Linked DNA regions of Homo sapiens. The protein of the gene in region 1 purifies or fractionates together with the protein of each later gene. This does not show direct contact. Each region holds a gene or a part of one and is shown on either strand. Other genes may lie near its edges.

Region 1 (7,026 bases):
TAGAACCTGAGCTCAGAAAGCAATATACAGTTAGAGATAGAGAATTGGGTATCACAGGCTCTTAGTGTGTCCCAGTACAAGTCCTTCCCAGTTTTCATAGCCCATGGTCAACTCTTCTTTCCTTGAACATCTTACATGCTAATTGTTTATTACTTTTCAGATCCTATTGTTTCACTTATACATAGTTGTAATATTTTCAATAATTTTTAACCTGAAACTAGTATCCATTTTTCCTGATGCAACACCTAATAAGGTTATTTCCTCTTTCCTATGAAACCCTCCCAACATTTGAAAAAGTTTAGTGTTCCTTCGAACTCGCTGGCTGCTTTCTCTTCTCCAGGTTGACACTACAGTTCTCTTGTGTTAGGTGACTATGTTCAGACCCATCACCTGATTATGAATTCCCTTTTGTTTGTGGGGTTCCAAATCAGACCTTGACTCTGATGTGGCCTGATCGACCCCAAGCACGGGGCATCCATCCACTTCCTTGCCTTGACCACAGCCCTATTTTTACTAATACAACTTAATTTTGTGCTTTTTGACAACCACTTCAATTTGTTGGCTCTTGTCAAGCATGTGGACATCTTAGATGTGTTCATTAAAGATGTCAGAATACACGAGAGCTCCCTGATGGAGAGAAAAAGAGCATGCAGCCAGAAGCTCATAGTATTTGGTCAAGTGTGTAGGGAAGGTAGCAAAGAAAATAGAAAAACCAAACGCAGGGAAGCCAGGATCATAGGGAATATGTTGAGTGAAACAGTAGGCAGGAATTGCCAAATAGTTTTTCTTAATCCCTCAGTCCAGTACTCACGAGAGTAGCTGTGCTATGGAAAGAACACATGCATTAGAATCAGTTGTCTCACTGCCGTTTATGGGCTGTGTGATCTTGGGAGCATTATTTTACTTCTCTGAGCCTTAGCTTTTTTAGCTGTAAAATAAAAATGATATCTACCTTTCAGTATTTTGGGGAGAATTAAATGATTTTTATTAAATAATGCATGTAAAGCATACAGAACTGGGCATAGCCCTTTAATGAATGATAGTTTCTTTCCTAGATAATATTAATGATAGTCATGTAATTACTGGATACACAACGGTTTTCCCAGTCTCTGGACTTCTCTAATATTGGTTGTAGAGGCAGATGAAGATGGACAAACTCTGGACCCCCCTGCTCTTGAATTGCCCAAGTGTCATCCTCGGGCTGTGTGTTCTGTAAGCTTGTAGCCGTCGATGGGATGTTATCTGAAATAGATTTTGATTGGACTCTCTCTTTTTTTTCACTCCCAAACAGAAGTACTGTTCTGCTTGGAGGACTGTCTGCTTTTATATATGTATCTTATTAACTGTTGGAAGTAGGCGGAAATGTTGAATCAGCTCACATTTGAATCTAAAATAAAAATGGCTTTTAGAAGTGCCCTCTACTTTTAAGAAGCTAGCTAATATATGGTCTGCAAAAGTGCCAATGTATAATATTTGTAAAATATAATTTGAAATTACTTATTTGTAAAAGTTATGGCATTATTGTTCATTAATTTTTTAATATTGGTGGGTATATTCTGAAATACGATTTTGCCATAAGAAAAAAATAGAAATAAACTTTGTAGTATATCACTAAATAAAAAGTATTTTAAATATTTGACTTGAGTAATTGAGTCCTGGAAAGTTTTACTTGGACATTTATGTTTTCCTTTGCAATCAAGTTCATTGTTGTTTGTTTACTCATTACTAAGATAACCTTTTGAGTTAAACACTAAATCTAAACTCAGTAGATTATAATAATCTCTTCCTAATTTTTTCTCTCCCTTGTCTGAAGTGGGAAGTTATGTTTTATTTTCGGTGCTTCTCTGCTTTTAAAAAAGTAACATGTACACTAATGAATTGTGTGCATTTTATTAGAAGACTGAGTAGAATAATTTTATAAATGAAAACATGAAACAACTTTTATCCTGTGGTATATGATGGCTATCTTTGCATTGAAGAAAATATCAAAAAATAGAAAAAAACTTTTCTTACATTTGCTTGTGTTAAATGATTTCTGACTGTTCGATGGTTTATGTACCAGTTGGCTGGCTGCTTTTCTGTGCTCTGCTTTTCTGTCTCCATGCTTTGGTTCCTATGAGTTTTTTCATGGAGAACGGCCTCACCCATTCACTTCTGTTTGCTCAAATCCTACTCATCCTCCATGGCCCCACACAATTATTTCCATTATGAACACCAGAGGCCAGGAACTAATTTCTTTCTACTCCAAGCCCTTAAAGCATGATCTTTTTTTTCTTCTCGGTACTACTCACATAGCACCTCCCACATTCTGTCTTGTTTTACAATAATTTTTGTAAGTGCCTTTTGTTTCTTTTCTAACTCTAAGATCCTGGAGAGAAAGAATTTGTTTTCTCCATCATTTTATCTCACATAGTATCTTACACACCAGTTAAGAACTCCACATATATTTGGCAAATGGATATGTTTTAACTTATTTATAGTTAGGTGTAGTCTTAGAGATGTCATCTAAAGGATATCGATGGCAGAAGAAAATAACATTCTGAAGGGAAACTATTACTTCCATGGGAAATAAAACCAGATTTGGAAAAAGTAAATAGCCCTTTTGCTGATGGCATTTCAAGCTATTTCCAGCCCTTTGGCCGATGAATCTACAAGAAGGGACTGAGTGAAAAGAATTATTGTCATTGTAGTGACAAGGGCCTCATTCTTTTACTTCTGAGCAACCCAACACAGATGGAGTTATCCATAGAATGAATTTAAGAGACAGTAAAATGTGTCACTCATTAGGCCAAAATGGTTTTTCCTCTTAGCCGTCCCCTGCTGAGATCCCCACCATCAGAGCATATGGTAGAATATGTCAAGAAAACTTTCTTATAAAACACCAAATGTTACTCAGAAGCAGTAACACAGCAGTCCATGGGCACCTGAGGTCCATGAGTATCACACCTGCAGCCACAGGTCCTGAAGCAGAGCGAGATGTGGGCCGAGGCATGGGATGGGGATCAGGAAGATTCTGGGACCCAGAGTTTTGTAGTAGAGAGGCTTGAGGAGCCTGGGGAGGGAGGGAAGGGACAAAAGTGCCAGCCATAAGACAGAAACCCCAGAGCAAGCAAAAGTAAACTTTGCCTCCCCTACATTTTCCTCTAGGGCTAGTCCAGAGTTTAGTCATGCTGAGAATGGTCATTCAGAGATTCAGCTTACCTTTACATCAGTTTGATTTTTCTTCTCAGGTGACATGTAAACACACTTAAAAACATAATGCCCATGTTTCTCATAGTGACCCTTGTATGTTATCTACAAAAACACAACATTATATTGAGGCACGTTTTATCTCTTACAAAGAAGTTTTTGGGCTCTTTGTAATAATATAAGAAACTTTAAAAGTTGGGTGAAGTTGAATTCTACCTCTGACAAATGGTAGTACTTCTTATAACCACAGGAGGGTGTGTGTCAGCCGGCTCCCGAAGACAGCAACTTGTTCCTTCTCTTTTCTACATAACTCTAAATCTGTTTTCCCTAAGGGCCTGTCAACTGCTTTCTGTCCTAGGGTGGATCGATTTTATTACCAAACGTCTATGGAAATGGAGCATGTGGAAATATTTTCAGGTGGGAGGGGGTGAGAGGACCAGGAGAAAGACAGGATTTACAATATTCATGTCTGATGTCTAATTGGCAAAACTCACAGCATGAACATTCAGGCTCTTAAGCTGGCAACGTTGGCCTTTGTAATTTTCAGCTGAGATGAAGTACAGAAGATTGTTAGTTCTTAGAACATAATTTTCTGTGATAGGCAGAAGCAAGCTGCAATTTGGTGGCATGCAAAGCGGGGAGGATTCATTTAACTGGATGCATATGGAAAGCTGACTCCACGGACATAGAATTCCCCATTCAGATCTGATAGCCACCTTCCCCTTTACTCCCTTATTTATCATTCTGAGAGCAAAGTGTTTGTCAGGTACATGTGTGGGAAAATATTGTTTGCTAGTAGCAATGTTCCCAAATTCTTACTCACTTAGCCCCATGAAGGTTGCCTGGCAAAGCATTGTTTCATTTGAAGGAAGAAATCATACTGGGGAGAAATAAATCTCTATTCACAATGTTTTCCTCTTTTCTGTCACACATGGTGTGTGAGTTACAATACCTGATTGACTAGAAAGTGCCAACATTATGTTGTATATTTTTTCACTTCCATTCAAAGTGCCCAAGACTATTTTGACAGTTACACTTTTCTCTTACTGACTTTTTCTTTATAGAGCTGAAATAGAGTTATTTGAAAAGATGAATTCTGTTTACCCTCTGCTCTTCCACACAGCTTTGCTTAGTTTTCTCAGTCTGTGGTTGAAATGTCTGAAAGGAAACAAGAAACAAAACTTCACCCACTAGAACATTCTATTTCATTAACTTCTTCAAACAAATGTTTCATTTATTTTTCTCTCACTGAGTTGTATTATTCACTGTGGAAAATCATTCTAACCAAAAGAAGATTGACACACTCATCGCATTAATATAATATTTGTTTCAATATTACGAAAGACAGTGCCAGCTTTCTGCCCCCAGAGGGAGACAGTGCCGTCTCCACTACAGAACTGGATTCAAGCTCAGACAACCGCTAAGTGGGTGTGGTGGGGGAGTAGGGAGGGATGGCACCCCAGACGAAGGAGCTTGGCTGCCATCAGAATCCACTGAAAAAGAAGTTTTCACTGGCAAACTGGGAGTTGTTAAATATAAGTGAACTAAAATCAGAGTTTGACGATTTAAATTGTGTGTGTGCATTAATTATATAAGTTGAGTAACTGTAATATTGAATTAAGATATGATGCTGCTGATGGCCCAGGGAGAGTCAAACCATAGCCGTTCATGTGAATGGTAGGATCGCAATTAAGGACAAAAACTTATTGCTGCCAGATGTTACATTCTGAGAAGGAAAAATGGAGGTGGCCAGCAGATTAGGATAAATTCTGTTTCTTGGTTTGACATAAAGTGTCAAAATTTCTTGAGGGTAGCGTAGGGTGAGGGGTAGCTATTGAAGCGCAGAAAGGGCAGAAATGAAGAAAGAACAGACCTCGGCAGTTTGTCCCAGTCCTTTGGGCTGAAGTTTGCATACCACAGGAAAGCACACAGAACAGGGACCCTAAAATCTGAGAGCAACTGTTTTATTAAAGGAATAGATGTAAGTTCTTTAATTCTCAGTATTTTTCATTTACCTCTTTCTTTCAGAAACTCCTAGCCTATCTCAGATGTGGCACTGGGAACCAATGGGCGGACTGGGCCGTGTTTGAATGGGTGTGCTACAGTGGAAGCAGGCATCATGGTGGATCAATCATATAAAAGAGAGAACCCCTTAAGGGAAAGATTGAATAAAGAGATAAACAGAAAGAGGGCCGCCTAGGCCAGCTGTCCTATTTACCTGGAAAGTGTTCTTCCTGAAGAAGCCTTAAGCTTCTATATTTTGTTTAATACAGACAGGTTGTTGCTTGCACTAAGATATTGGGAATGCCCCTGCTTGCTCTCAGCTCCTTTGTATCTCCAGCTCAATCTGAACTGATTCCTTCATTTCCCAAGCTCATTTGCCCTCTGTGTTCAGACTGGGTTTGGGTGAAGGAGGCCTGGCATGAGTCTGGAGGGGGGGAAGGAGAGAGAAGCCAGGGTATGTCCTTCTCTACTCTCCGTGTTTGGGGCTGCATCTCTAGAGTTGGGTACATCTCCTTTGTGGTCCTAGTTCCCCCAGCCAGGGGCCTAGGAGCAGCACCTTTTTTTTTCCTTCCAGCCCTAAGCCTGGTAATAGCTTCGATCCTTGGGTGGTCTCACCACCCCTGGTTGGCTTTTCTGTTCTTCCTTATACTTTATAGCTAGCTTCCCTTAGAAAGTCGCTCTACTGAGCTCCCTGTAGTGGATTTTGTTTTCTGGACTGGACTCTGGCAGATAAAATCATCTTCAAAATATAAAACTCAGAAGTTTAGAAAGCACCTCCATGGCTGGACTCCAAGGCATAGCTGCCTAATATTCAATTCCATTCTAGAAAATAACAATAGTTTATCAATAACACCTTCTATTTATAGGACTCTTTATAGTTTGTAAACTGCTTTTGTACTTATAATCTCATATGAGTCCCAAAGTAACCTTTATAAGATGAGCAGTAGAAGAAACAGAAGTGCCTACACTCATAGTTGGTAGTTGCAGTAGAAGTAGAGAAGATATTTTAATTTAAATCTTCTGCCTCAAAGTCCCAGGGTTAAAATAATAAATTTTTGAATGATTAAATATGAAAAAGCATTTAGTAATAAGAGGAAATGTTCCTAAACTTTATATTAATTATCGTCAAGGCATCTTTTATAGTTTTATCCTTTATTGCATTTCTTATGTTGATTCTTATATGATCATGTGAATATAAATTTGGACAATTATATCACTCTTCAAAAATATAAAACCAGGGCAAACAGTTCTGGAAATTGGACTATAGGAAGAAGAAAGCATAAAAATGAGATGGGCAGATATTAAGCAAAAGAAAGAAATGATAGTATGGGGTGTCAGGGATCTTCTTACAGAACACACACACACACACACATATGGATTAGAAACATACTTGACAATATAGAGTACCTCGGTACAGTTTTGATTTATTGTGACTTATAACAAAGTCTTTCTAGTCTAACTGCATCTTGATGAATATTAACCGAATTGCATAGCCTAATAAACATTCATTTTCTTCCTTTTAAAAATCATTTAGAATTTGGCTTATAATTCTAAGACGTATGCAAGTGGCTGAGTATATACTAATTTCTTAAGCCACCAATCTATCATTTAAAAATTCAGGTAATTACTAAAATGGCATCTATATACCTGGAAGAAAACATCATATTTAATGATTCACAGTTACAAATGTTGCCTCTGCATCCTTGCTGAGCTGCTTTCATTTGAAATACGCATCCCTCCCTTGTCCCCTCTATACCCCCAAGCAGATGTCTTAGGCTTGAATGTGGCCCTGTAATGGAGATGGCATTGTCTGCCTCTGGGCAGGAAAGCTGG
Region 2 (7,026 bases), on another chromosome or scaffold:
AACACTAAGACTCTAAAGCACATGTTCCTCCTCCTTGTGTTTTAAGACACTGTTTACATGTCTCAGTCCCTCAACTGAGGGAGAGTTCCCTGAGGGCCAAGACTGTCCTCTGTGTCACACTGCTTAGCATACACATGGCTTGGAACACATGGCTCAGTGACCCTGAAAGAATGAAATCAATGGTAGGTGCACTGATTTAAAGAATGAAATCAATGGTAGGTGCACTGATTGAAAGAATGAAATCAATGGCACTGATGCCATCAGGTTCATTAGCACCGCACATTTTCATCCTAGAGAAGAGTGGGGAACACTTACCAGGCTCCCACAAACCAGAGTGAATGCTACCCATGACCAGAGAGGCATTCTCCTGTAGAAGGTGAGTAACTCTTGTCCTCCCCTAACACCTATAGGTCACTTACACATGGCAGGGCTCCATCTCTGATCCCTTCTGCACCTCTAGCCTGAATCCCTAGCTTGCTGGGCTGGGACCATTCCCCTGGAGCATTAAAAGAGCTTCCTAGTGCCTGACAAATGGCCTCTTCATTTCATACAGTTGAGGTGAGGAATCTCCTGTTTTTGGCTGCTTGGATCTCCTTTCTCTTCTTCATGCTTCTCCAGGGATTCACACAGTGTACATGCTCCTGGGAAGCATCACCCTCTAGTTCTGGAGGTGGGGCAGGTGCCTCAGGGTGACCTAATCACAAAATCTCATCCGCCGGTTATGGTGTGTACTTCAGGGAATGGCCTGTGACCATGAAGACCAGAATAGATTGAGAAAATGATTGAGAAAATATGTGAGCTAGAGTTTTTTGGGGGAAAAAAATCCTATCTTTTCCTAGTGAGCTATCAGAGAAAGACTTTCTTTCTCTGGGTCATGAGGCATGGGGTATGGATGTGAGGCCGGGAACTGCTATAGCTATTTTGCTACTAGGAGGGAAGCTTGCCAAAGACAAAGCTGACGCACAACAGAAAATAAAGCTGTGATAAGTACAGAAAAATGGAGTTAGTCTGTTAATATACTGAGCTGCTGGAGCAAACCTTGCCTGAATTCTCTCGGATTTTTCAGTTTTATGAGCCAATAAATTCCCTATACTATGTTTACCATGTTGAGCTTTCTGTTTTTGCAACCAAAAACATCCTAAGTACTACATCCCAAGTGCTACCAGAGGAAAGAGAAGGGAACTCACACTGCATGCCTATGTGCCAGGCTGGGAGTTTTACATGTCTTATGTCATTCAGTCCTCATGGTTGTGAGGAAGACTTTATCATCACCCTCACTATACAGCTGAGAAAACAGTCTCTAAGAGGTGAAGACTTGTATTTTGTTTTATACTTTGTTCCTAAGATTATTTTTATAACTCAGCTAAACAATGCCAATTTTTGCAGGACTACTCTAAAGAAAATGGATAGTGGGAGATTGCAAGACTCTGGGCAGGGAGTCACAGCTCACCTCTGTTCTTTGTAGCTGTGGTTTCTTTGGATTTGCTTTTAGCCATCTCTTTGTGGTTCTCCGAAGGCAAGGAATTCCACCTCTTCTGAGCTGAAACAGGCACCAAGGGGATTGAGGGCAGCTTCAGGCGCCACTCAGGCCCAAGCGAGTCCATGAGAGCTCTGGTCATTCTGGAAAAGAAGGCAGGATTGCAGGGAGGTTTCCAGCTGGGTCAAGAAGATATTTCTCCTTTCACACACCCATGGGAGGTAGGCCTTTTCAGAAGAGCCAGAGCTGCCACCCTCCCCCTGGTCGGAACCACCTCTTTAGCTCCTCCAACACGTGCAATACAGGAACCCATAAACACCATCTCAGATCAGTCCCCATGACATTCCTTGAGCTTGGTCAAACTATGTTACCTTTAAAGTGGTGATCTGTTGCTTGTTAAGGATACTTAAACCATGATCCAAAAAGACTATAGTTTCTCCAAGAAAGAATCATACATTTTGTTTCATATTTTATCAATGAATCAAGTACACAACCATGCAAGCACCTGACATTTGTTTAATGCTCAGGCTTTTTAAAAAATGCAAAGCTTATGTCATTCTCAAATCTTACAACTCCTCAGGGGTTCCCAATTCCCTAGGCTAATGTGGCATGTGAGATCTGGTCCCCACCCCTTCCTGTCCCCCTTCACTGTGAGCCACATTCTCTTCTGATCCTTCTGTTCAAGACTTTGCACATGCTTTTTCCTCTACCCAGAACAACCATTTTCATTTTGGAAAAAGATTGCCACCTTCCAGGCCCGGCTAACTCCAACTTATTCTTTAGATTTCAGCTTAAAATGCCACCCAGAGACCAAGTTCATTCTGTCAACTGATCTCCAGCACCTGGTATGTCACCTAGCAACCACCAAGGCCCAATCAGTTATGTGTTGAATGAGTGAATAATGCTAACTGTATACTTTTTCTGCTCCTACAACCATGTTTCCTATATTACAAGAATAAAAACCACAGACTGTATCACTACAAATTCCAAGATGTCTCTGGCTAGGCTGTTTTCCTGGCGGCCAAGCTATTTCAAACCTCTGCTCTCCTCAAACCTGTTCCCTGGCCCTTCCCCTTTTTTAGAGCAAACTTCCTCATACCCCAAATACAAACCTACCTGCCTGGGTGCCCAATCCTTCCTATTTCTCTCCTGTCACAACAGAAGAGACAATGGGACCAATCCACCCACCTAAGCTCTGGATCCCATCTCCTCTTGCCTCTTTCAGGGACCACACCCAGGCAGCACCTCCCTCTCCCACATCTTCATCCTTCCTCTCTACTAACTCCAACCGTCAGCATTTAAGTCCCTTTAACTCTTTCCTCACCTAATAAAACCATACTGGACACCCCTTGCCATCACAGGTATACTCCCCAGCTTCTCTTCAAGCCTGACTTTCTGAAAGCATTGCCCTCTGGCTCCTGATCCCACTGACCAGCTTCCATCAGAGCCACCGGTGACTTCATTGCCAAACCTTTAATGTAAGCTCCTTGGAACACCTGACACTAATGATGTCTCCATCTTTCTTGAAATACTCCTTCCCTTGGGACATCAATGCCCTGTTTCCTCCCACCTCTCTAGCTGCTGTTCCTCTGTAAGTCCCTCAAATGCTGGAGTTTCTCAAAGCTCCATCCTCTTCACACTAGCTGTGATGTTCTTTTTCTTTCTCACAGCCCTAATCCACCTCTGCGCTGATGACCCTCAAATCCTTATGTCTGGCCTGTATTTTCTTCCTTTGTTCCATGTAAATACCCAACCGTCCTACTTAGATCTCTAGTCTTATGTCCCACAGTCACCTCCGACTGAATGTCAATAATCTGAGTGTCTTCTTCTATTCCTCCCTTCTCGATACCCCGCAACCACTAAAGCTTGTTGATATACTTCCTACATGTCCCCTGACTGGTCCCATTGTTTTCTCTCCACCCTCTCCCCTGGATTGCTGCATGACTCCTTTCTATTCTGTTGCCCTTCATATCATCCCTCAACATGGCAGCAAAGAGCTTTTCTCTAAAATACAAATCTGCTCATGTTGCTCCACTGCTAAAGACCTTTTCATAAAGGCTGACTTGCTCAGGATTAAGTCCAAGCCCTGAACCCTGGGTCTTGTGTGACTTGGCCTCACCAACCTGTCCCAAGCTGAGCTCCTGCCTGCAGCACCATGTGAAACCGACTTCTTACAATTCCTGTGATCTGTCACACTTGCTCACCTTTGCACACGCTGCTCTGTCTTCTGGCTAACCCCCTACCCCATATCTCTCATTCTTAGCTCACCTCCTCTGAAAAGCTCTCTCTGGCCTCCCCCTCTCCCTCTCAGCTAGCTAGGTGGCTCCTTTCTGGCCTCAGAGCCCCCTGTGCTGCCTCCTACCATGGCGCTTATCATGTTGTATTGTGCTTGCCTATTACTGACTGGTGTCTTCCTTGAGACCGGGACCTCTATGACGGCAGGAAGAGGTATGTCTCAGTCATCAGCCCAGGTCCTAGAGCAAAGTCTGTCACATAATTGGTAGATTTTGTGGAATCAGATAAGTTAAAAAGGAGGCAAAGAGAAAACAAAGAATGCTGGCAGACAAGTCAAGCCAGAAATAAAGCACTAAATACATACCATGAAGTCCCTGTTAAGGGTTTGCTATTAGTGCAGTGTTTGGCTTTCTAGCCGCACACGCAGAGGGGAAACATGATCAGTTATACAAATGACAATATCCATGAGATAAAAGCCAATAACTGCTCAGAGACCAGAAAGGAATTGCACCTGGGGAACCTCTTGGATTGGTCACAGTGCAATATACTGAACCATGTCCACAAACCATATCCTTTTAGGCTTGTCATAGCTGCTTGGGCTTGTGTCTTATTCTTCTAATTAGCGTTAGCGCTTTGAAGGTAAGTGGGGTCTGTATCTCTTTCTCATTTTGGTATCCCCCACTGAACCGGGCACAACACCTTAAACAGTGTACAATAAATATTACTGTGTACATAGATACTGTGAGGCACATGTAGGCAAATATCAATCAATCAATCTTAGTAATTGACTCCCTGAAAACCTGCTAAATAAAAAAGCAGATTTTCCTTTCTCAGCTTCCCCTACATGCCCATCGGGAGTTTTTTAAGTGTAGCCAAAGGGATCCCCTCAGAAGACAGACAAGGCAATGGCCCGCAGCCAATCAAGAAGGACAGGGAGTTGCCGTGGAGACCACCTGCTGGGAATGGAGCTCACCTGTTGATGCCTTCTACGGCTGACGTCACATTATCATCAATCTGCAGCACAGTCTTATAGTCAACATAGGCCATAGGGTACTTCTCCAGAGCCTCATAAGCAGATGCTCGCCGCAGCAGGGGCTTAATGCTGAAGGGAACCAAGGCCAGTGCTCTAGAATAGGAGGCAAAAATGTCAACTGGCTGGCTGCTGAGCCACCAGGGTTTCCCTACAGTTTCTTCCAGGCAGGGTTATCTGGAGCACTCAGCGTACAGGAAGTAATTTCTGGCCGAGAGACATGGCTAAAAACGCCAAACCTCAGAACAGGGATTTTTCAACGTAGACTGAAGTGAGGAGGAGAAAGAAGGCAGAGAAACATGAATTTTGTTAAATGTGTGTGCACATGCATCAATTTTCATAGTTTCAGTTCCCCCAAAATCAAGAACAAAAGCCTCATGGCTTTCATGCTACTATGTTTTTTTACAGTTGTGGTCTAGTGGGAATAACAAACAAGCTTTGGAGTCAGATGGGGTGGTGTCTGAATTCCACCTCTGCTGCTAACTATGTGACCCAGGTAAATCACTTTACTGCCCCAACCCTCAGCAACCAAGTTCTGGCCTGGGACACATGGTAACCGTACCCCACAGATTGGTTGTGAACACTCAAAGAGGGAAATCTGGCACAAGGCATGGCACAAATTAATTCAGCACAGGCTCTGTGAGTATGCTCACACCCCTCCTGCTCTCCTGGCTATCACCAGGGCAGGAATCTAAAGCAATGTCAGAGGACATCAGATCTGAGAACACATTTCAGGTAAATGTGAGAGTTTAATGATGATAAAAGAATATTAGACTGGCTTGAAGAAAAAGAGATATGAAACATTGTTCAGTGTCCTCTAAAACTGGTCATTCATGAATACCATTTTTTTCCTTTCTCCTTCTGAGACAATCTATTAACCTCTATTCCTCCTTCTTTCCTTCGCTCCCTTCCCCTCACATACTCCCATCCCAGAAAAGCACCTGGGCAAGCCAGTTACTGGTCTGCCACTCCACCTTATTCCCAGGTTTCAAATTGCACAAAGACTTTACGGCCTGCTTCTAACTGCCCATCCCACTCCTTTTTCGGCAGCAGAGCCAAGACTCCAAAGATGCAAGTCACGGGCCATAAGGACCAAATAAAGACTCCCATTCTCAGTGACCTGGTGAAACTCAGTGACACTTTCTTAATATCTGTCCCAGATGTAATTGATGGGATCCTTCCAAAGAAGAAACAAGCCAGATTAACCCAGCCTCCTCTTCTGAGACCCTCAGGCATCCCAAAATTACCCTTGGCCACTTACGAAGTGCAATCTTTGATGCAGTCTCTGCAGTTTCCATCCTTCAAGTGACATGCTGCTCGGTTGGAGTAGAGAACACTTTCTTCTTCTGGGTCTGAAGAACCTGCCCAGATAGAGTGGGGAAGATGATCAGTTTGGAAAATGGGTGCCTCAGGGCATTAGGATACATTTCAAACTCAGAGCTCTTTGGGCCTTGTGTTAAGGCAGTAGAGATAACTATAACCTGTTCAGGCTTGTTGGTCTGCTGGGCTGGCGTGTTTGTCATTCTTATGTGACAGAAGGACACTGCGCTTTTTGCCATTCAAAGGGAACCAAGTATTTCCTCATTCACTCATTCCAGCACTGAACTTGATAACAGACAAAAGATAAACAAGAAATAGCTAGCTTCTGCCTCAAAGAAATCCATGCTGTAACTACTTGGGTTTGGGTGGATAAATGGATGGATAGGTGTGTATTTTATTACAAAAAGCATTTAAATCCAAGAAAGAAAGAAAAAAAAAAAAAGAAAAGAAAGGGAGGGAGGGAGGGAACAAGATGATAAACGTATGATAAATGGATTGACCAAAAGTTGTAGGGGCACAAAACACCCATGAAAGACATGAGACTAGTTTTACCTGGTCAAGCCAGGGAGGACTTTGTCAGGGAAATGATAATTGAGCTGGGTGTGATGGGAGTACAGAGAACTTAATCAGGAAAAAGTCTTAAGCTACCCCATGGGGAGAATTATTAGACATTCTTCTAAGGCAGTCCTTACCCTCAGGAATCGCAGAGGCTCAAGTCCTTCACTGTGGCCACCATGATCTTTATTTACGTATTTTTTTTTGAGACAGAGTCCTGCTCTGTTGCCCAGCCTGGAGTGCAGTGGAGCGATCTCCGCTCACTGCAACTCCACCTCCTGGGTTCAAGCAATTCTCCTGCCTCAGCCTCAGCCTCCTGAGTAGCTGGGATTACAGGCACTCGCCACCACGCCTGGTAGAGACAGGGTTTCACTATGTTGGCCAAGCTGGTCTTGAACTCCTGACCTCA

Evidence for each region. The genes of interacting proteins can lie anywhere in the genome.
Region 2: the proteins of MEPE (region 1) and TOMM34 purify together in Homo sapiens (affinity purification with mass spectrometry; 2 studies listed by BioGRID and IntAct, with this or other methods). This does not show direct contact.

Annotation. Positions count from the first base shown.
Region 1 is NC_000004.12:87,835,953-87,842,978, reverse strand, and holds part of MEPE (matrix extracellular phosphoglycoprotein isoform a precursor), read right to left. Parts: intron 4,348-7,026; coding exon 4,294-4,347; intron 3,295-4,293; coding exon of another isoform or gene 3,202-3,294; intron 3,053-3,201; exon of another isoform or gene 2,925-3,052; intron 1-2,924. UniProt on the Homo sapiens protein: Promotes renal phosphate excretion and inhibits intestinal phosphate absorption. Promotes bone mineralization by osteoblasts and cartilage mineralization by chondrocytes.
Region 2 is NC_000020.11:44,950,383-44,957,408, forward strand, and holds part of TOMM34 (mitochondrial import receptor subunit TOM34), read right to left. Parts: intron 6,104-7,026; coding exon 6,004-6,103; intron 5,239-6,003; exon of another isoform or gene 4,839-5,238; coding exon 4,686-4,838; intron 1,621-4,685; coding exon 1,451-1,620; intron 1-1,450. UniProt on the Homo sapiens protein: Plays a role in the import of cytosolically synthesized preproteins into mitochondria. Binds the mature portion of precursor proteins. Interacts with cellular components, and possesses weak ATPase activity.